Homo sapiens: one gene and its partners. The protein of the gene in region 4 interacts with the protein of the main gene of each other region in a biochemical or structural test. Each region holds a gene or a part of one and is shown on either strand. Other genes may lie near its edges.

What was found.
Region 1: the proteins of FCN2 (region 4) and CR1 interact in a biophysical measurement, tested with the Homo sapiens proteins (one study listed by IntAct).
Region 2: the proteins of FCN2 (region 4) and PTX3 interact in a biophysical measurement, tested with the Homo sapiens proteins (2 studies listed by IntAct, with this or other methods).
Region 3: the proteins of FCN2 (region 4) and FN1 form a complex in vitro, tested with the Homo sapiens proteins (one study listed by IntAct).

What each region holds. Positions count from the first base shown.
Region 1 is NC_000001.11:207,541,151-207,548,198, forward strand, and holds part of CR1 (complement receptor type 1 isoform S precursor), read left to right. Parts: intron 1-1,031; coding exon 1,032-1,430; intron 1,431-4,157; coding exon 4,158-4,334; intron 4,335-4,425; coding exon 4,426-4,528; intron 4,529-6,120; coding exon 6,121-6,206; intron 6,207-7,048.
Region 2 is NC_000003.12:157,439,835-157,444,166, reverse strand, and holds the end of PTX3 (pentraxin-related protein PTX3 precursor), read right to left. Parts: intron 1,802-4,332; coding exon 1,188-1,801; 3' UTR 534-1,187; downstream 1-533.
Region 3 is NC_000002.12:215,360,336-215,363,087, reverse strand, and holds the end of FN1 (fibronectin isoform 1 precursor), read left to right. Parts: exon of another isoform or gene 1-435; coding exon of another isoform or gene 436-442; intron 443-1,008; coding exon 1,009-1,119; intron 1,120-1,461; coding exon 1,462-1,533; 3' UTR 1,534-2,223; downstream 2,224-2,752. Other genes in the region: bifunctional purine biosynthesis protein ATIC, read right to left, coding at 436-442. UniProt on the Homo sapiens protein: Fibronectins bind cell surfaces and various compounds including collagen, fibrin, heparin, DNA, and actin. Fibronectins are involved in cell adhesion, cell motility, opsonization, wound healing, and maintenance of cell shape.
Region 4 is NC_000009.12:134,876,770-134,883,852, forward strand, and holds the start of FCN2 (ficolin-2 isoform a precursor), read left to right. Parts: upstream 1-4,040; 5' UTR 4,041-4,052; coding exon 4,053-4,152; intron 4,153-5,756; coding exon 5,757-5,870; intron 5,871-6,532; coding exon 6,533-6,586; intron 6,587-7,083.

The DNA of each region.
Region 1 (7,048 bases), on a different chromosome or scaffold from region 4:
CAATGAGCCATGATCGTGCCACTGCACTCCAGTCTGGGCAGCAGAGCAAGACCTTGTCTCAAAAAAAATGCTATGCTGTATGCTTTATTATATTAATATCCAATAGAATAAAGACACATGCCTTCTATATAGAGAGAACTAAATTAATAATGGTGAGATAACAGTTAAATTCTCATTTAGCAGGAGAAATAAAAACATAGACTATAGGCTAGGCACAGTGGCTCATACCTGTAATCCCAGCACATTAGGAGGCTGAGGTGGGCAGATCACTTGAGGTCAGTAGTTTGAGACCACCCTGGCCAACATAATGAAACCCCGCCTCTACTAAAAATACAAAAGTTAGCCGAGTTTGGTGGCGCATGCCTGAAATCCCAGCTACTCAGGAGGCTGAGGCAGGAAAATCGCTTGAACCTGGGAGGCAAGGGCTGCAGTGAGCCAAGATCACGCCACTGCACTCCAGCCTGGGGAACAGAGTGAGGATCTGTTAAAAAAAAAAAAAAAAAGTGGACTCTAATAATACATGGACACATTTAGTGAAATAAACTTAACTGAGTAGAGCAGAACTTATAATATTTTAAAACTGTAAGAACATGTCTGTACATTAGCAAATAGTAGATGAGAATAGTATTTTCAATATTTACTTCTGGTAATTTGGAATTAAAAAAAAAACTTTTGGGAAAATTTACAATAAAGTATGATTTTAACAAACCAGGCTAGGCGTGGTGGCTCACGCTTATAATCCCAGCACTTTGAAAAGCAGAGGCATGCAGATTGCTTGAGGCCAGGAGTTCAAGACTAGCCTGCCCAACATGGCCAAACCCCATCTCTACTAAAAATACAAAAATAAACCAGACATGGTAGTGCATGCCTGTGATCCCAGCTACTCGGGAAGTTGAGGTAGGAGGATTGCTTGACCTGGGAAGTGGAGGTTGCAGTGAGCCATGATCGTGCCACTACACTCCAGCCTGGGTGACAGAGCAAGACTCTGTCCCAAGGTTTTGTTTTGGTTAACTTGCTGTCCCTTTTTCCAGGAATTCCTTGTGGGCTACCCCCCACCATCGCCAATGGAGATTTCATTAGCACCAACAGAGAGAATTTTCACTATGGATCAGTGGTGACCTACCGCTGCAATCCTGGAAGCGGAGGGAGAAAGGTGTTTGAGCTTGTGGGTGAGCCCTCCATATACTGCACCAGCAATGACGATCAAGTGGGCATCTGGAGCGGCCCGGCCCCTCAGTGCATTATACCTAACAAATGCACGCCTCCAAATGTGGAAAATGGAATATTGGTATCTGACAACAGAAGCTTATTTTCCTTAAATGAAGTTGTGGAGTTTAGGTGTCAGCCTGGCTTTGTCATGAAAGGACCCCGCCGTGTGAAGTGCCAGGCCCTGAACAAATGGGAGCCGGAGCTACCAAGCTGCTCCAGGGGTGAGTCTGACTGAGGCCTAGTAGGGCCCTGCAAGTGACATGCGTTGCTGTTGGATCAGGAGATTAGTATTTGTTCACGGGGAGGGATGTGTGCTGAGCAGGGTCGAGGAGCAAATTTTCTAAGTAGTGAACATGAAATTCAGGTGTGTAGACATGCACATGTGCTGAAATTGAGAAGCAAAGCTCAACCTGGGCAAGGGATATGATGTTTCTTTGGGGTTCTTATAAACAGATCTATCAATTACCTTTGAGTATAATAATGTTTGATACAAAATGAGTGATTCCTCTGCCCAGGCACTATAATACAGGCTACATGTGAATTTTAATCCTGAAAACAAAGTTATTAGGTAGTTCCCAGTTGTTCTATGTTTGTCTGTTTTGTTTTGCTTGAGATACTGTCTTGATCTGTCACTCAGGTTGGACTGCAGTGGTGCCATCATGGCATACTTCACCCTCCACCTCCCTGACTCAAGCAAGTCTCCTGCCTGAGCCTCCCAAGTAGCTGGGAATGTAGGTGCATGCCACCATGCCTGGCTAAGTTTTTTATATTTTTTTTGTAGGGACAGAGTCTCACCATGCTGCCCAGGCTGGTCTCAAACTCCTCAGCTCAAGCACCCACCCACCTTGGGCTCCCAAAGTGCTGGGATTATAGGCATGAGCCACTGTGCCCGGCCTCTATGTTTTACAGAGAATATGTGCCTTAGACACATCAGATAACATTCTGAGACAGTAACTTGCAGACAAAACTGGATTGCAAGTCCACCTCACTCCAGAGCCTTGGCTTTGCTCATCAGCATTCAGTCATGAAATCAAAACTTACTCTAGATACTTTCAAGGAGGGAGGGATTTCATGCAGGTTGTATTAGTCTGTTCTCACATTCCTATAAAAAACTACTTGAGCCTGGGTAATTTATAAAGAAAAGATGTTTAATTGACTCAGAGTTCTGTAGGCTGTACAGGAGGCATGGCTGGGAAAGTTACAATCATGGTGGAAGGCAAAGAGGAAGCACGCATATCTTCATATGCTTGGCAGGAGAGAGAGAGAGAGCAAGGCAGAGGTGTTACAGACTTTGAAACAAGCAGATCTTGACAGAACTCTATCACAAGACAGCACTAGGGTGATGGTGCTCAACCATTAGAAACCACCTCCATGATCCAGTCACCTCCCACCAGGCTCCTTCTCCAACACTGGGAATTACCATTTGACATGAGATTTGGGAGGGGACATAGAGCCAAACCATATCGCAGCTAATAGGTCACAAAAATGTTAGAAGGGCAGGAAAAGCAATAGGACAAAGGCAAAGTTACGAGAGATCAGGGAGCTGCTGTGGCTCCCAGTCTACAGCACAGGAGCCTGGAGTGATGGTGAAATGGCCAGCCCCTCCCACTGAGCAGGCAGCTCCCTGTAAGCTGCTAATACTGCAGGAGCCACCATTGCTGCCAGAATGCAGCTGATATTGCTGGAGCCAAAGTCATTGGCATCGTTACAATTGAAGCTGTAGCTACTCACTGAAGCCATCTATACTGCCACTGCCTGAGCCACTTCTAGAAGTAGAACAGATTCTGCCATCATCCTGCTTTTTAATTTGGTATATATGCCTCCAATTGGCAGAACCTAACCAGAGCCTAGCTATCAAGGAAGATGAACGATTTATTTTTAAGGCCTCCATTGTTAGCTGTCAAAAGACAGTGCAGAAATGTGAGGCTGGGGGCCAACAGAAATTTAACCAGCACAGCACCTCAATATTACATCACCAGGCATTGATTAGTCCAGGGAAACACTGGGTGATGAGCCCTGAAAATGGACATTACAGCATCAGAGTATTTACAAACTCCTTAAAGAAGTCATTTTTCTATTCCAATCCCCCATTTGATGCTTGAGAAAGCTGAAGTCCAGAAAAGGGAACTGATCTGCTCAAAGACAAACTGAAATTACTTTTTCCATTTTATAACAGTTTTATGTAATTTATTTGAGATCCAAATGTGTTTTGATTTCCCAAGATCAGATCAACTACATTAAGAGAGAGCCTGAGATGCCGTTACAATATGTTGTGTGAAATTACACTCTCATTATGGTGACAGTAGGTCTTTCAGATTTTGTTCGACAGTTTCCCACCTTCTCACTGAAGTGAAATGAATGACTAGGCAGCACCTTGCTACATAGCATGAAGAGAGGAGACCCATAGTTCTTTACCACCCTATGTCAGGTGGCCGCTGAGAGAAGACTTGAAAGGAGATGAGCATAGATGTATGGACGCTCTTTGTTGCACCAGTGTGATAGGTGATGGAGGGACCTATTAGATGGGACATGGGCAGGGGCACTCCTTTATTGCTTAAAATGCAAGACTAAATTGGTGATGCCTTTCTAGAAAGGAAGTATGAAGATACAAAAATCCATCATTCCTCCCAATTTTGTACTGGGTGAACAGTAATTGGAAGCATTCTAGAAGGAACTGTCCATTGTGAAATCTTAGTTGCATACTTTAGATGAAAAACAATGAATTGGAGATACCTCTGTTTTAGTCACAGTTGTGCCATGTGTCAGTTCTATGACTGATGGCAAGACATCTTCCTTGCCCCGTGTATTTAGTTTATCAATGTAATAAGGCTGTTATTCTAACTTTATTATTATATATAGATTCGTAATTATTATTCCCTTGGCCAGTTTAACAGTGAGAAAAAAGTTGTTTTCACACAATTAGCTGTACTTTGTTTCTCTCTCCCCAGTATGTCAGCCACCTCCAGATGTCCTGCATGCTGAGCGTACCCAAAGGGACAAGGACAACTTTTCACCCGGGCAGGAAGTGTTCTACAGCTGTGAGCCCGGCTACGACCTCAGAGGGGCTGCGTCTATGCGCTGCACACCCCAGGGAGACTGGAGCCCTGCAGCCCCCACATGTGAAGGTGACTAGACTCTTATCTGGCTTGATATTTTTAGCTTGCGTCTTTATTCTCCACATGCCAGTGATTTCTGTTCGTTTTTCTTTATCTCCAGTGAAATCCTGTGATGACTTCATGGGCCAACTTCTTAATGGCCGTGTGCTATTTCCAGTAAATCTCCAGCTTGGAGCAAAAGTGGATTTTGTTTGTGATGAAGGGTGAGTATGAGCTTGCCTGACCTGCTGGACATTGAAATTGGGGTTGGGAATCAGTCTAAAAAGGGGAGATTTGGTGTGGCACACACACACACACCTTCAGAGAGATGAACTTTCGAAAGTATACCTAGGAAGAAAGGAAAGAAACATATAGAACTAATAACATGAGATATGAAGAGGAAACTGGAACATATATTAACTGGCAAGTTCAAAGGCAAGTATAACTACTGGTTATGAATATATAAGTAACACATTAAGCAAAAAATATCAGCCAGAAACGGTGGCTCACCCCTGTAATCCTAGCACCTTTGGGAGGTTGAGGCGGGCAGATCACCTGAGGTCAGGAGTTGGAGACCAGCCTGGACAACATGATGAAACCCTGTCTCTACTAAAAATACAAAAGTTAGCTGGGTGTGGTGGCATGTGCCTGTAATCCCAGCTATTCCGGAGGCTGAGGCACCAGAATCACTTGAACCTGGGAGGTGGAGTTTGCAGTGAGCCGAGATGGCACCATTGCACTCCAGCGTGGACAATAAGAGTGAAACTCCATCTCAGGAAAAAAAATCATATTTTACAAGCAAAAAGGAATATGAGTAATTTAGAGAGTCCCAGGAAAAAACTGGAAGTAACAAAAGCTTATTATAAAAAGCTAGGATCATTTGTGAATCATTTCAGTAAATTCTTTAAATCGTCAACAGTGAAATTTGTAATAGGACTGAAAATGTAAAAATCAGCATTTTTTAAAAAAATCCAGCCATATATCATCTGGTTAATCATGGGCTCTGGGCTCTGAGCTGGGGTCCTGATGGCTGCTGTTAATATTTCCAGCAAGCTCATTACCTTGTTTATGTCCACCTAGTGCTCTTCGCAGGGTGCACATCTCTACACGGGAGCTGACCGGCATGGGCAACAAAGCACCTGATCCCAAAATGTAACACAGAATCTTGGCAGCCTCCAAATGCCAGCACCCAGTAAGAGTTAGGAGGGCATCGGGGTCCAGCAGACATTGAGAATTTTCGACAATTGCATGCAAAAAATAAGTCCTCTCTTCTTTCCTTTTTCCCCTAGAATATTCATGCTTACTCTTCAGCAGCCCAAATTGCCCTTTTGAGCCTTCTTCACGCCATCACAGATGTGGAGATGAAAGGACAGTCTGTTCTCTCGCCAGCTATTTCCCACTTTTCCACTCCAAACTGGGAGCTGTTTTACTTGCTGTTCCAGGGTCAGAGTTAGGAAGGCATTACATTAGAAGACTGGGTTTCTAATAACAACAATGAGTGATTTATCAGGTTATCATGGAGTAATCAGTGAAACTCCAAGCCTGGGTCCTGGGTCAAGGGGATGGCGCCTATGTCATGACCACCTTTTTCAGTTCAAGCAGGACTATCATGTGACCAAGCTACTGCATTTTGCCATTCTATATTGTTCCCTTCTGGAGGCTGTGATTTTTCCAGAATAAGGTAGCCTGTGCAACTCTGCCACCTGCTGGCCTAAGGTCCTAATAATCCTGAAATTGGGGCTGGGCCTTAGATTGTGAACTAAGGGTTCTCTTGGCTGAAACAGCTCACACTATTCACTCCTATTTTCTTCTTTAGATTTCAATTAAAAGGCAGCTCTGCTAGTTACTGTGTCTTGGCTGGAATGGAAAGCCTTTGGAATAGCAGTGTTCCAGTGTGTGAACGTGAGTAGCAGGAGTAACATTTCAGGCCAGTCTCTCCCTTCATCTGTTCAGTATTTGACCCATGACCTCCCCTAATGTGGTTCTTCAATTTTCTAGTTTGAATTATTGATTTGAAAATTGCTTATTTTAATAATGTTTGGTTGTGAATCAAATGTATACATCACCTGTCTTTGGAACCATCTGATCTGTCTCTGTCCTTCTGTATTCTGTGTTCTAGTGCGATAAATCCTATGGTAGCATGATTCTAGGTCAGGAGAGATTAGATAATGTGAAGCCTTAACAATTTGCTTTCTTTCTCTCTTTCTTTTGTTTCTTTTTTCTCTTCCTTCCTTTCTTCAGTTCTTTCTTCCCTTCTCTTTCTCTCCCCTTTCTTCCTTCCTTCCTCCTTCTTTCTTTTCCATTTTGTTCTTCCATCAGGTGCAGTCTACAATTTTTGTATATATTTGATAATACACAAATATTAAACATGCCTTTATTTAATCAATATTTATTGATCACATACTTTGTGCCTGATGTTCATCTAGCCACAGGAGTTATATCAGTGAACAAGATGAATGAATTCCCTGTCCCCATGTTGTTTCCACTCAGTTGGGGAAAGGGACAAGAAAAAAAATAAATACGATGCTATGAAGATAGTAGAGCAAAGCATTTAGGCATGAGGGAAAAGTGAGGAGCAACATTAGACAAGGCGAGCAGTTTGAGACTCCTTAAATTCTCAAAACATGTACCTAAATAATTTATGCTGAGAGATTCATAAATAATGTCATTTTTAAAAATTTATTATACTTTTAAGTTCTAGGGTACATGTGCACAACGTGCAGGTTTGTTACATATGTATACAT
Region 2 (4,332 bases), on a different chromosome or scaffold from region 4:
GGCCCTTCTATCAGCCCTCACATAGAATCTACAGGAGAATACTAGTGTGGTGGGGAAAAGTTACCTCCCCATCCACAGTGTGAAGGGGCTTGACCTCTCCCTTCTGAGTAAGGAAGAGAATGGGGTGTGCTTTCAGGGCAGGAGTTCTTTTCCAGATTCTTAGGTCTCCCAAATAACATTCCTAAGCCATGTCTTGCAGCATCATGTGTATCTGAGGAACTGTGATAATTCATGTTTGGTGTTTGTTTTTATGTTACACAGTACAGAAAGTTGTATAAGCTCCTAGAATTGTCAAATGGGAAGAGTCCTAGAGATTCTTATTTCATCAATTCCTTGATTTCTCAGCTGAGAAAACTAAAACCCACAGAGATGAATTGACTTGGCAGAGATAATATTTCTTGCTTATGATTTATAGGAAGCCAAACTTAAAACAAGTCTATAGTTGCTCATTCCTAACAATATTAACCATGCTGTTTACATAATAGTATCTGAAAACTAATTGCCTACTTTAAATGAAAAGAGAAAAGTACGAGTTTGCTCCAAAACATCTCTTAAATTTATAATTAAATGACGTGAGCTAGTTTTATAAAATATTTTATTTACAGTAGAGCTTTACAAAAATAGTCTTAAATTAATACAAATCCCTTTTGCAATATAACTTATATGACTATCTTCTCAAAAACGTGACATTCGATTATAACACATAAACTACATTTATAGTTGTTAAGTCACCTTGTAGTATAAATATGTTTTCATCTTTTTTTTGTAATAAGGTACATACCAATAACAATGAACAATGGACAACAAATCTTATTTTGTTATTCTTCCAATGTAAAATTCATCTCTGGCCAAAACAAAATTAACCAAAGAAAAGTAAAACAATTGTCCCTCTGTTCAACAATACAGTCCTTTTTAATTATTTGAGAGTTTATCTGACAGAGACACAGCATTAAACTGAAAGCACCATGGCATAAAGTCTAGTAACATTATCCTCAAAAGCTTTTTCCAATGTCTTTCCTTCAACTGTTTATTCAGTATTTGGCCAGTACAAATAAAGATTGGTCTCAACTCTCTCTTTCATTAGTCTCAAGTGTTCCTATTATGCACTGAGTTTTCAGACCTTCCCAACTGGCATGTGTTTTAAGTGTGAGTTTCTTTCTTTGGCTTCAAGTGGAGTTTCACAACATTTATGAAACATACTGAGCTCCTCCATGTGGCTGGATCTCTGTGACTCCCCACCCAACAATATTCCCCCGGATGTGACAAGACTCTGCTCCTCCGGTCTCTCTTATCTCTTCATTGCTAAGAACACTATCCCAGATATTGAAGCCTGTGAGTCTCCCAGAGAAGGCTAATGTTTCATCAAAGCCACCACCCACACAGCAGCCATTCTTTTCTTGGCCAATCTGCAGGATTCCTCCCTCAGGAACAATGTGACCTGTGGCCATCTCAACAGTGGTAGCCGCCAGTTCACCATTTACCCACAAGGATGTGAGCCCTTCCTCTGAATTCCAGGTGCCGCACAGGTGGGTCCACCTTCCCAGGGAAACCATGGCTTCAGCAACCAGTTTGTTCTCCTCTCCACCCACCACAAACACTATGGATTGGTAGCTGAGATACAGCTGGATTTCATATGGATTCCTCTTTGTGCCATAGGAAAACAGGATGGTTTTGTTTAATACATCTGTGGCTTTGACCCAAATGCAGGCACTAAAAGACTCAAGCCTCATTGGTCTCACTGGATGCACGCTTCCAAAAATCTTCTTGGAACGCATTGGGAATAAAATAGCTGTTTCACAACCTAGAGTAGCAAGAAAATAAGAAGAATATTAAAGAAAATATAAATTAATTCAGAATTATTCTGGCATTAGTTATTTAACATAAGAATTTTAATTATTACAATTGAAAGCTATGTGAAACCCTACATTACGACTTAAGAAGCTTCCACTGTAATCTCTGCAGAGCAAAGAAAATGAGAAAAAGGAAAGCCAATTGTCTTATCCAATGAAGCATCTAAATGAAGAGAAAGCACGCAAATAGAAGAGCCAACTAGTCCAAACCCACAAAATAATAAAAGCCATAACTACCTCCCCTTCCAATTTGCATATTTTCTTTGTTACTGCTTTTTTTTAAAAAAGTTGAATCACTATCAGTTAACTTCAGACAATAATTCTATAATTTCCAAGAATTCAGAACCCAACCTGGTTCTCTCTTTTTGCCACCACCAAGTTCCTAAAATAATAAACCTGTGAAATTCAGTAGACCTAGTTCGCTCCATTTAGCCTTTACCAACATGCATTTTTCAGCAAAATTCTAGGATAGTGATGTTATTGCAGAATACATTTTTTTTTTTTTTTGAGACAGAGTCTCACTCTGTCACCCAGGCTGGATTGCAGTAGTGCGATCTCGACTCACGGCAACCTTCGCTTCCCAGGTTCAAGCGATTCTCCTGCCTCAGCTTCCGGAGTAGCTGGGACTACAGGTGCACACCACTGCGCCCAGCTAACTATTGTATTTTTTTTTTAGACACGGGGTTTCACCATGTTGGCCAGGTTGGTCTTGAACTCCTGACCTCAAGATCCGCCTGCCTCAGCCTCCCAAAATGCTGGGATTACAGGCATGAGCCACCACACCTGGCCTGCAGAATACATTTTAATACACCAAATGTTCTCAGATATTTGTAAACTTTGCAGAGTTTTTAGAAAACTACCTTTGAAAGGCAACAATGTATAATAATGATGACTAAGCTTATTGGGCATTCACTATGTATCAGATACTGTTCTAATCATTTTGTTTGTCATTTTAATCCTTATGCCAACCATAAGAGATAGTCTTTTACATTCCTATTTTACAGATGAGAAAACTTAGGTAAAAGTAACTTATCTATGTTTACATAGCTGATAAGCAGTAAAACTAGAGTTTGAATTTTTGCAGTCTGGTCACAGAGGCCACGCCCTTAATCAGCACACTACAGTGCCTCTTATTAATAGAACCCCTAGATTTCTCTAGGAGGGCTAGAATCCAGATGGTGTTACTACTAATGAGCCATGCAACTTTGGATGAGCACCATAATTTCCTCTAGGCTTTAGCGTTATCTAAAAAAGGCCCTTCCATTCTGCTCCTAATATTCTGCAAGTCTGTAAGCAGCAAGTATGTAGCACTTAAGAGCTGAATAGACCAAAAATGTGTTTAAAAATTCTACCTTGTCCACATGCTTATAATTACTATTTAAGCAGTAATTGAAAATCTTTAAGAGAAGTACATTCTTTCAAGGGGCCTGGTTGGAGAACATGTTTCTGCTAAAGAGCACTTGGGAGGGGGACTTTCAAATTTGAGGTGGAAAGCTCAGTAAGTTTCCACCATTGTCCATCTCAAGGCGACTTAGCCATTTGGGAAGCTGGAGATGCTGAAACGAAAACCTTTTACGTGTCCCTGGGAAAGAACAGGTGAGCTCTGCATCTATATACATAAATATATATATATGTATGTATACGTATATATACACACATATATACATATGGATATGTATGTATGTATACATACATATATGTATATAAATGTGTGTGTATATATATGTGTGTATGTGTATGTAGGTATTTTTTTAAAAACACCTAAATTAGGGCAGGTATAACAACCTAAAGAAGATATGCCATAAGACAGCTTTGAAAAGCAAACTCCCAGAATGGTTCCAGAATAACTGGTAAAGAGAAAGAACTTGCAGAAACCAAACATCCATGTAAAAGTGTGGTAAACTATGTCAGATTCCTACAAGTGGCTCAGGGGTAGGCTCTATCCTGAAAACATTAAACAAATATGAACCTTATCCTTTAGTGTTAGGGATAGTCAAATAAAATATTGGCATTCAGATAATCATATAAAAGTAACTACAATACTAAAACACAAAACTGGCTCTGTCATGCTTTGATACTTTTTCACTAAATAATTTGAACTTTTGAAGATTTTTTAAAATTAATTTTTAATGAGGCAGTGATTCTATTTTCAAATGAAATTGCTAGGTACATCTTTTCTTCCAGCTGTGTTAATTAAAATCAAATAAAAATCACTGAAAAAAATCACCATATCCATGGGCATTTGATATAGTCTCTATAAAGTTTCAATAAAGTAGTGTTCAATCACACCTGTAATCCCAGCACTTTGGGAGGCTGAGGCGGGTGGATCACAAGGTCAGGAGATCGAGACCATCCTGGCTAACACGGTGAAACCCCGTCTCTACTAAAAATGCAAAAAATTAGCTGGGTAAGGTGGCGAGCACCTGTAGTCCCAGCTACTCAGGAGGCTGAGGCAGGAGAATGGAGTGAACCCGGGAGGCGG
Region 3 (2,752 bases), on a different chromosome or scaffold from region 4:
ATATGTGCTTAAACAGAGAAATATGTCTAAAATATTTAAATTCTAATATAAAAAAGAAAGTGACTGTATTATTTAGGGCTGCATTTTAGTTGTAAGAAAAAAGTCCAACTCAAGCAAAAATGGCCCACACAATGGAACAGTCCCAGGACCCACCGGCTTCAGGGGCTGCTCCAGCAATGGCGCCCGGACTCCCTCTTGCTCCGCGTGCCTTCCCATGCACTGGCTTCGTGCTTCAGCGGGGTCTCTGCTGATGGTGCCATTGATGACTGACCTCCATGAGCTTGCTTTACCCCCTGCCAGCTTAAGAACAGTAGTGAAAGAGAACATGTGTGTCCTCCCATTTCCAGTAAAAACTTCAGGCAGGAGCCTCACTGGCTCAGCTTGGTCCCGTTTCCATCTCCCATGCCATCTCCGGCCAGGTGACAGGCTACCATGTCACTGCCTAGGGAAGTTTAGGAAGAGAGTGGCAAAGTGGTGCATTAGAAAGAACATGGCCAGGTCACCCCACCTCCTGGGCGGCAGGCCCAACTCCACCAGTGGTCCACTGTGTGACTTCCCTGCTCCCTCTAAGCAAGTCACTCCTCTCCTCTGGGTCTCTGTTTCCTTACCTATAAAATGAGAACGTTTCTTCATGTGATCTCAAGTCCCTTTTAAAATCGCTAGGATTCTTTGAAAACCTTTTCTATCATCTAGTGCAGAGAACTTGTTGAGGAAGTTGGGATTGGAATGAGCCTCAGCAGATGGGCAAGGTTTGAATAGGAAGAGAAGAGACATTTCAGGAGAAAGAAACAACATAGAGAGACAGATGTAGGTATAAGATATGGTAATAAGCCAAAATGTATTAAGAGTTATAAATGCATGAAATCATCATCAAAGCTTGCTTAGTGATTAACTGCTTATATTTTGCCAGTGCATATGATGTGACATTTTTCTTTAACTCAAACACTAAATTACGATGTCCTCAGGTTATCATAAACCCCATTTGACTTCATGCCTCTACTCTCTCAGGGCTGGCGCTGTGACAACTGCCGCAGACCTGGGGGTGAACCCAGTCCCGAAGGCACTACTGGCCAGTCCTACAACCAGTATTCTCAGAGATACCATCAGAGAACAAACACTGTAAGTGCATTAGCAGCACAAGTGTGTTCCCTCATACTAGACAGTCTCTTTCTACAGGTATCTTTCTTCAGAATGAACCAAGTGTTTTAATTAATTAAAAAAAAAAACAACTCATAAATGACTTAAGTGAAACACTGTATTCCATAATATAGTTTAAGTTATAATTTATGTAACTCTTGAACATCTCCTATTGCCCAGTATGCTGCTAGGTTCTTGAAACTAGGAAGAAATATTATCCTATCTATAAGCAGCTGTCATGAGTCCCCACCTCCCCGCATTTTTTTTTCTGTACACTTTACAGTATTTGCCACTAATTTTTTTTTCCTTCTTCCTTTTTAACAGAATGTTAATTGCCCAATTGAGTGCTTCATGCCTTTAGATGTACAGGCTGACAGAGAAGATTCCCGAGAGTAAATCATCTTTCCAATCCAGAGGAACAAGCATGTCTCTCTGCCAAGATCCATCTAAACTGGAGTGATGTTAGCAGACCCAGCTTAGAGTTCTTCTTTCTTTCTTAAGCCCTTTGCTCTGGAGGAAGTTCTCCAGCTTCAGCTCAACTCACAGCTTCTCCAAGCATCACCCTGGGAGTTTCCTGAGGGTTTTCTCATAAATGAGGGCTGCACATTGCCTGTTCTGCTTCGAAGTATTCAATACCGCTCAGTATTTTAAATGAAGTGATTCTAAGATTTGGTTTGGGATCAATAGGAAAGCATATGCAGCCAACCAAGATGCAAATGTTTTGAAATGATATGACCAAAATTTTAAGTAGGAAAGTCACCCAAACACTTCTGCTTTCACTTAAGTGTCTGGCCCGCAATACTGTAGGAACAAGCATGATCTTGTTACTGTGATATTTTAAATATCCACAGTACTCACTTTTTCCAAATGATCCTAGTAATTGCCTAGAAATATCTTTCTCTTACCTGTTATTTATCAATTTTTCCCAGTATTTTTATACGGAAAAAATTGTATTGAAAACACTTAGTATGCAGTTGATAAGAGGAATTTGGTATAATTATGGTGGGTGATTATTTTTTATACTGTATGTGCCAAAGCTTTACTACTGTGGAAAGACAACTGTTTTAATAAAAGATTTACATTCCACAACTTGAAGTTCATCTATTTGATATAAGACACCTTCGGGGGAAATAATTCCTGTGAATATTCTTTTTCAATTCAGCAAACATTTGAAAATCTATGATGTGCAAGTCTAATTGTTGATTTCAGTACAAGATTTTCTAAATCAGTTGCTACAAAAACTGATTGGTTTTTGTCACTTCATCTCTTCACTAATGGAGATAGCTTTACACTTTCTGCTTTAATAGATTTAAGTGGACCCCAATATTTATTAAAATTGCTAGTTTACCGTTCAGAAGTATAATAGAAATAATCTTTAGTTGCTCTTTTCTAACCATTGTAATTCTTCCCTTCTTCCCTCCACCTTTCCTTCATTGAATAAACCTCTGTTCAAAGAGATTGCCTGCAAGGGAAATAAAAATGACTAAGATATTAAAAGTATTTGAATAGTATAATATGGAGGAGTTTTATCTTAGGGAAACCCCATGGTATGATAACCCCCATCTAACATGTCTTACTTTGGGTCAGCTGACACTTTTGGCATGGCTTGATAAAC
Region 4 (7,083 bases):
GTTTTGCCACGTTGGCCAGGCTGGTCTCGAACTGACTTCAGGTGATCTACCCACCTCGACCTCCCAAAGTGCTGGGATTACAGGCGTAAGCCACCACGCCAGTTGTTTGACTTAGGTATTTCTTGAGTGACTTTGGTGGTTCAAAGAAATTGTCCATTTCATTTCCACTGTTGAATATGTTGGTGCTAAAGTGTCTTAATATCTCCTTATATTCCTCATAATATCTGTAGAATATGTAGTGAGGTCATTGATCTCTTCCTAATAGTGATATTTTGCATTCTCCCTCTTTTTTCTCTTTTCTTCAGTCTGACTAGAGGTTTATAAATTTGATTTACCTTCTCAAAGAATCAGCTTCAGGTTGTATTGATTTTCTGCACTTGTTCATTATTATTCATTCTCTTTTTTCTACTTTGGATTTAATTTACTCTTGTTTTTCTAGTTTCTTGAGACGGAAGCAGAGGCTGTTGACCTGAGACCTTTCTTCCTTTTTAGTGAACATTTCACACTGTAATTTGCCTCCCAAGGAGTGCTTTAGGAACACCATGCAAACTGTATTTTACTGCCTTTTTGTTTTCATTCAATTCAAAATTCTTTCTAATTTCTCCTTTGGCCTCTTCTATTTCCTATATCTTATTTAGAAGAATGTTATTTAGTATCCAAATATTTGGGAGGATTTTCTAGACACCTTTCTTTTCTTGATTTCTAATTAATTCCATTGTTGTCCGAGAACATACTTTGTATGGCTTGAATCTGTAGAAGGTTGTTATTTTAGTGGCCACGTTAGAATTTGTAGTAAATCTCTTCCATGATCACAGTTTACCTTCCGGCAACATGAAGCCACTGCTGTCTGCTACAAGAGTCTCATGGCCGTGTTCTCCATTTCTCTCCTCCTGGCCTTTGTGAGATGGTGGTCATGTTAGAGACCTCACAGATGGGATCCATGCCTGCCTGGTCTGTCTCCTGTGTACAGCATCACCTGTCCTAGAACAGCCGGCACCCTGAGGGTGGAGACCTGGGCTGAGGCACAGAGGTAGCTTGTGTGGGAGGGAAACTTCTGGAAGGGGGATGTGATGGTTAATACTGAGTGTCAACTTGATTGGATTGAAGGATGCTAAGTATTGATCCTGGGTGTTTCTGAGAGGATGCTGCCAAAGGAGATGAACATTTGAGTCAGTGGGCTGGGGAAGGCAGACCCACCCTCAGTCTGGTGGGCACCATCTCATCAGCTGTCAGTGAATAAAAAGCAGGCAGAAAAATGTGAAAAAGCGAGATGGGCCTAGCCTCCCAGCCTACATCTTTCTCCTGTGCTGGATCCTTCCTGCCCTCGAACATCAGACTCCGAGTTCTTCAGTTTTGAGACTCAGATTGGGTCTCCTTGCTCCTCAGCTTGCACACAGCCTATTGTGATCCTGTAAGTTAATACTTAATAAACTCCCCTTTATATATGCCTATCCTATTAGTTCTGTCCCTGATTAATACAGGGGGGTAGAAAAGGCCCTAGTTGGGACCCGAGGAACTAGGGCTGGAAGCCAGCTCAGCCATGAACTGGCCATGTGCCTTGCGGGAACTTCTGCCCTTCTCTGAGCCTCAGCCTCCTTGCCCGTAACAAGTGACGTGACCCCTGGAAGCACCCCTGACCAACATTTACACTGGTGCCTGTGAGGGCTTTGGTTTTTGTGTGTTATCATCTGTGGGCAATTTTGAGTTCACCAAAGACTTTTCAGGTCTTCCTTTGCTTTCTAAAACGAATTCAAATTTAATTATGTCCATTTATTAAAAATCTTACTTTAGGGCCTGGCGCGGTGGCTCACACCTGTAATCCCAACACTTAGGGAGGCCAAGGTGGGTGGATCACCTGAGGTCGGGAGTTCGAGACCAGCCTGACCAACATGGGGAAACCCCATCTCTACTAAAAATACAAAAAGTAGCCGGACATGGTAGTGCCTGCCTGTAATTCCAGCTACTCGGGAGGCTGAGGCAGGAGAATCGCTTGAACCCAGGAGGCGGAGGTTGTGGTGAGCCAAGATTGTGCCATTACACTCCAGCCCGGGCAACAAGAGCGAAACTCCGTCTCAAAAAAAAAAGTGTACTTTAAAAGCTGCATTCTGCCTTCATTTTAAAAGTGTGACTTATAAACCTTATTATTCTATCTTTTAATAACCACCTATAAGGAGCCTGTGAATAATTCTTGGTCCATTCCTTAACTTAGCCAACTAAACACCTTCAAACATTGTTACTGCATTTATACATTTAATAGAACCACATTTATCCTTTAGTACCTTGTCTAACTTTAAAAAATCCTTCTGAATATGAACTGCTAGAAATGTAATCATTTAAATTCAGCATGTGATAAACTCAGAGTTCCAATAAAGTGATTCAATAGTTTATATGAATTCGGTAAGTTTTCCGCATAAATGCACTCTGCCAAATCAATTACTCAATTGGCCATTTTCTGTTGAAGTTATCCTGCACCCACTCCAATAGGCCAGATTCTCTTGATTATTGCAAGTACTTTAAATAGCATATTTTTTTAGATTTCTGAACACTAAAATATTAATATAATGTCTTTGGGCTTTTAAAGCCTTCTAGACTTAATTTTAAGTCATCTAGGTTTGAAAGATGCTTCTATTAGGAAGGACAAATAGCATGCAGTAAAGGAACCTGCCTAAGGACTCGGAATTTTGGCTGCTGGGGTTTCACTGGGCAGCTCTGGGGACCTGGCTCCTCTGCAGGTGACTTCAGGACTTTGAGGAAGATGCCCCCAAGCCATCTTTCTAGGTTCCATATCTGCATCTCCATGGAGCCTGTGTCTTCCCCAGGTTCATCCCTGGACCTCATCTGCATCTGGCATAGCCTTAATTAAGTCTTGAGAGGTCTGCCCTAAACACCACGGAACCCGAGGGGGGTCTTAACTAGTCATAGTCTCAGGACCACACATCTCCATGGGCATTGAAGGAAAATCCGATGGGATTTTGTTTCTCGCGTGGCTTTGCTGGGCTGGGGTCACAGTTTAAAATCCTTCTACTGATCTTGCCAAGGAAGAAGGCACCTCGGCATCCCGATGGCAGCAGGTGGCAGGGTGCGGTGGTGGTAGTGGGAGGTGCAGTGCTGGTTCCGTCTCTGGGGGCTTTAGGTATACGGCCTCTGGGGCCCCACCTGCTACTGTCTCTGTCTCTAACCTGGCTCAGTCCAAGGCGAGAGTGCACCTTCAGGCCAGCTCTTCTCCAAAAGGCGAACACAACCACTGAAGTAAGTCCACAGCCATCCTACAGGTGGGATGTCTGGCCTCAGGGCTCAGGGGGTTCCCTGGGCCCTAGGAGTGAAATTCACCTACTCTCATCCTCCCTACAGGCTAAGCCCCTGCATTCACACTCAAGGTCTCCCCTTCAGATGTGTACCTGGGTCATAGTCCCCCAGGCTCCCCACTCTTCTCTCCTTTCCCTCCTGTTCATGTGCCCCTGTGCTCTACATACTGCCCCAGGAAACAGTGGACACACACGCATTTTCCTCTCCTTTTCACCCTGGCAGCCTGCCTGGACCTCATAGTGGCAGTTTCCAAGCCTCCTGAGGAGAGTCCCAAGTCTGCTCATGATGTGGTGAGGGTTACTGTGTAAGGCCCACACCAGTGGCCCATGACCAGCCCTGGCCATGAGGACTCTAGGTATTCGGATAAGGGAGAGAGACCTCTTTGAAGCAGAACATCTTTAGCAAACCCTTCCTTGTTCCCCGTTCTCAGCTCATGGTGACATCTGCTCACCGCTGAACAAAGGTGGGAGGATGGGCCTGGGCTCTTTGCCCAAGGCCACAAGCAAGTCAGCCTGTTCCCTGGAAGGAGACCGTCCCCCTGCAGGGATGACAGTCGCCATGGGATCCCCAAGGGGCGGGGGGTAGGGAGCAGCCCTGGAGATGATCTCGCACCTCCTGCTGGCGTCACCAAGCCCGCGGAGAGGAAGCGGCTGTCACTCGGAAGATGAGAAATTGGAGTCTGAGGGAGGCTGGCTTCTCTAGCCCTATAAGAGGGCAGGCACCTTTTGAAGCAAAGACCAGAAGAGATGGAGCTGGACAGAGCTGTGGGGGTCCTGGGCGCTGCCACCCTGCTGCTCTCTTTCCTGGGCATGGCCTGGGCTCTCCAGGCGGCAGACACCTGTCCAGGTAAGGGCACTCCAGGGCCTCCTCCTGGAAACTTCTCGTCCCTGAAAGCTGGCAGCTTCGTGATTGGTGGCTTCCTGGCTTCCAGGCCTTGCACCAGGCCGTGTGGAGCATCGTCTAACGAGACAGCAGCTCTGCATGCCTCATCTTATGTGAACAAACGCAGAGGCCCCGAATGGATGTGGCATCTCAGAGACGGAGCTTCCTCTGCTTGCCCTCCCATAATGGAAACCGAGGCAGGTTTCCAGTCTCCCTGGGCCACATGTCCCCCTCTAAGCGTAAAAAGCGTAGTCATGGTGTTGTGTGGGGAGGTGAGGCTTGTGGTGCCAGCTGGGTAGACACCAGTCAGATATTCTGCCATGGTCGCCATCACAGAGAGACAGGGTGTGAGGTGGGGATAAGCACCCGGAAAGACAGGGTGTCAGGCGGGGATGAGCACTGCAGGACCTTTCCATCCAGGACCTGCTGGGCTCTGGAGATGGCAGTTCCCATGGTGTCCCTGATGCGGCACAATAAGGGTGGCATTGTCCCCGTGAGTTCTGGACCTCCTTCGGGGCTCCCGAGGGGACACTCGGGTGCCAAACCATGGGCTCCGGCGCATGCGAGGGCAGGTTGAAAATGCAGGTTCTGGAGTCAGGTCCTGACTCCGTCTACCCGGGGCTGGGATGCAGGGTCAGGAATTTGTGATGCTCCTGATGCTTGCAGAGATTCGTGTCAGGATTTCTGGAATGCATGTGAGACACAGAGCTCTGCGGTGTGCTGTGACTAGCATCGCATTCAAGGAGCAATCCGTGGCGTGAAGTGTGACACAGGCCAGGAACAGCGGGGATTCGCTTGGAAACTCCTAGTGGCTCGTTGTGGAGTGGTGGGGTTAGGGTGGCATTATTTTCTTCCTTAAATACTTCTAGAGTTTCTAAATGATCAAATAATAGCACGTGTTATTTTTGTAACACACTCACTTGAATTTGAGTTATCTAATTAAAAACAACAAGCTGCATTCCAGCTCTAGTTTCGCACCAACTTGTTCAGTGTCCTTGAAGGACGCCTCCCTCTGTGGAGGAACAAGGTGGACCCACAGGAGCCCATCCACTCTCAGATCTGCTCCAAGATCAGGCGTGGGAGTTGCAATGGTAGCCTCTCTCCCTGTGTCCTTCTCACCCGATATTGATTACAATGATATGATAGATGAGAACAGACGAGATTAGGATGCTGTCTTAAATGGTAGGAGCTGAAATGAACCTGCACCCCTCGGTAGGTAAGGGAACAGAGGCTCAGAGGGGTTAAGGGACTTGTTTCAGGACACACAGTACTGAGGAAGTAAGGTTTGCCTTCAGGCAGGGTAGCCTCCAAGGCCAGGGTTCTGCCCCAAATCACCTTTCTGCCTGACCAGTGCCCAAGAGGTGAGGACAGACCAAGTGCCCACCAGGGCAGGAAAACCTCCCTTCCAGGTGACCCTCCAGCTGAGGGAGGTGGCTGTGGCTATAGCCATCTGCCCAGTCCTGATGTCACCAAGATGGCAGATGCCTTTCAGTTGAGTGGTATATCTATGGCTCAGTGGAGTCTTCAGGCCCAGGTGACACTGAGTGGCCACCTGTGTTTTTCTGCAGAGGTGAAGATGGTGGGCCTGGAGGGCTCTGACAAGCTCACCATTCTCCGAGGCTGTCCGGGGCTGCCTGGGGCCCCTGGGCCCAAGGGAGAGGCAGGCACCAATGGAAAGAGAGGTAGGTGCAGGCATGGCTGGGGGCACTGGCTCTTGCTCTTTTTGAAACCAGATGCTGAGTTGGGCAACACCCCCACCATGGTTCCTAGATCGAGAGCTGGGTCAGGCCCCTGCAAGAGCCAGGAAAAGAACTGACTCCCAGGGCCCAACAGGGTTCTGACATGGAGGGAGCGTCTTTCTTAGCTATTTCATGAGCTCACATTTGGACATGCTTCTGTAGCTCTGTCTCCTAGTCCTTGATCCAATACCAGCTTTGCTCGGCCGCTGGCACGACTTCAAGCTCTGTGTCCCTCCACCTTCCCACCTCAACACGGAGGCCATGACACTCTTCTCCACCTGTCTCAGATGAGGAAACTGAGGCTCAGAGAGTCCAGGGATTTCGCTCTGTTCTCACACTTGGAAGGAAAAGAGCCGAGATTCTACCCATGGTCTCTGGATTTCCAGCTCCCGGCCCCTGAGTGAACAGGAGAGCCCCGTGAGGCCTGGGTCCTGGATCTAGAACCTTCTGGTGCAGGATGGGCAAGCCTGGGCGGGGCCACAGTCACGTCGTAGCACGAGCAGGGTCATGGTCATGATTGGAAATGACAGCCGCCAGCTCCAGGGTGGGCCCTTTGATCCTGGGCTGGGCAGTTTTCCTCAAGTCAGTGTCTTTGGAAATTGCAGGAGAACGTGGCCCCCCTGGACCTCCTGGGAAGGCAGGACCACCTGGGCCCAACGGTAAGGAGGGGACAAGAGTGAGAAGCGGCTTCAAGGCCCTTCCAGACCTGGCTGCAGAGGAACGTGAGGCGGGTCTTCTGGGGCTGCCACGCTGTCCTCGCCAGAGCCAACGCCTGCCCAGGCAGGGCTCTTGGGGCTTAGTCCAGGGCAGGGGTCTCAGTGTGGGGGAAGGGGTCTCAATGTGTGTGTGGGTTCTCAGTCTGGGGGAGTGGGGTTATCAGTGTGGGAGCTGGTCTCAATGTGTGTAGGGGGTCTCAGTTTGGGGGAGTGGGGTCATCAGTGTGGGGGCAGGGTTCTCAATGTCGGAGGAGGGGTTCTTGGTGGTGTAGGGAGAGGTTCTTGGGGTGTGTGTTGGGGGAGGGGTTCCCGGTGGGCAGGCTGTGGGGAGGTGTTATCAGCAGGGAGGGAGGAGCTGTCAATATGGGGGAGAGATTCTGGGATGGGGGAGAGGTTCTGATTATTCGGGGAGGGACTTTTAGTGTGGGGAGGGGTTCTTA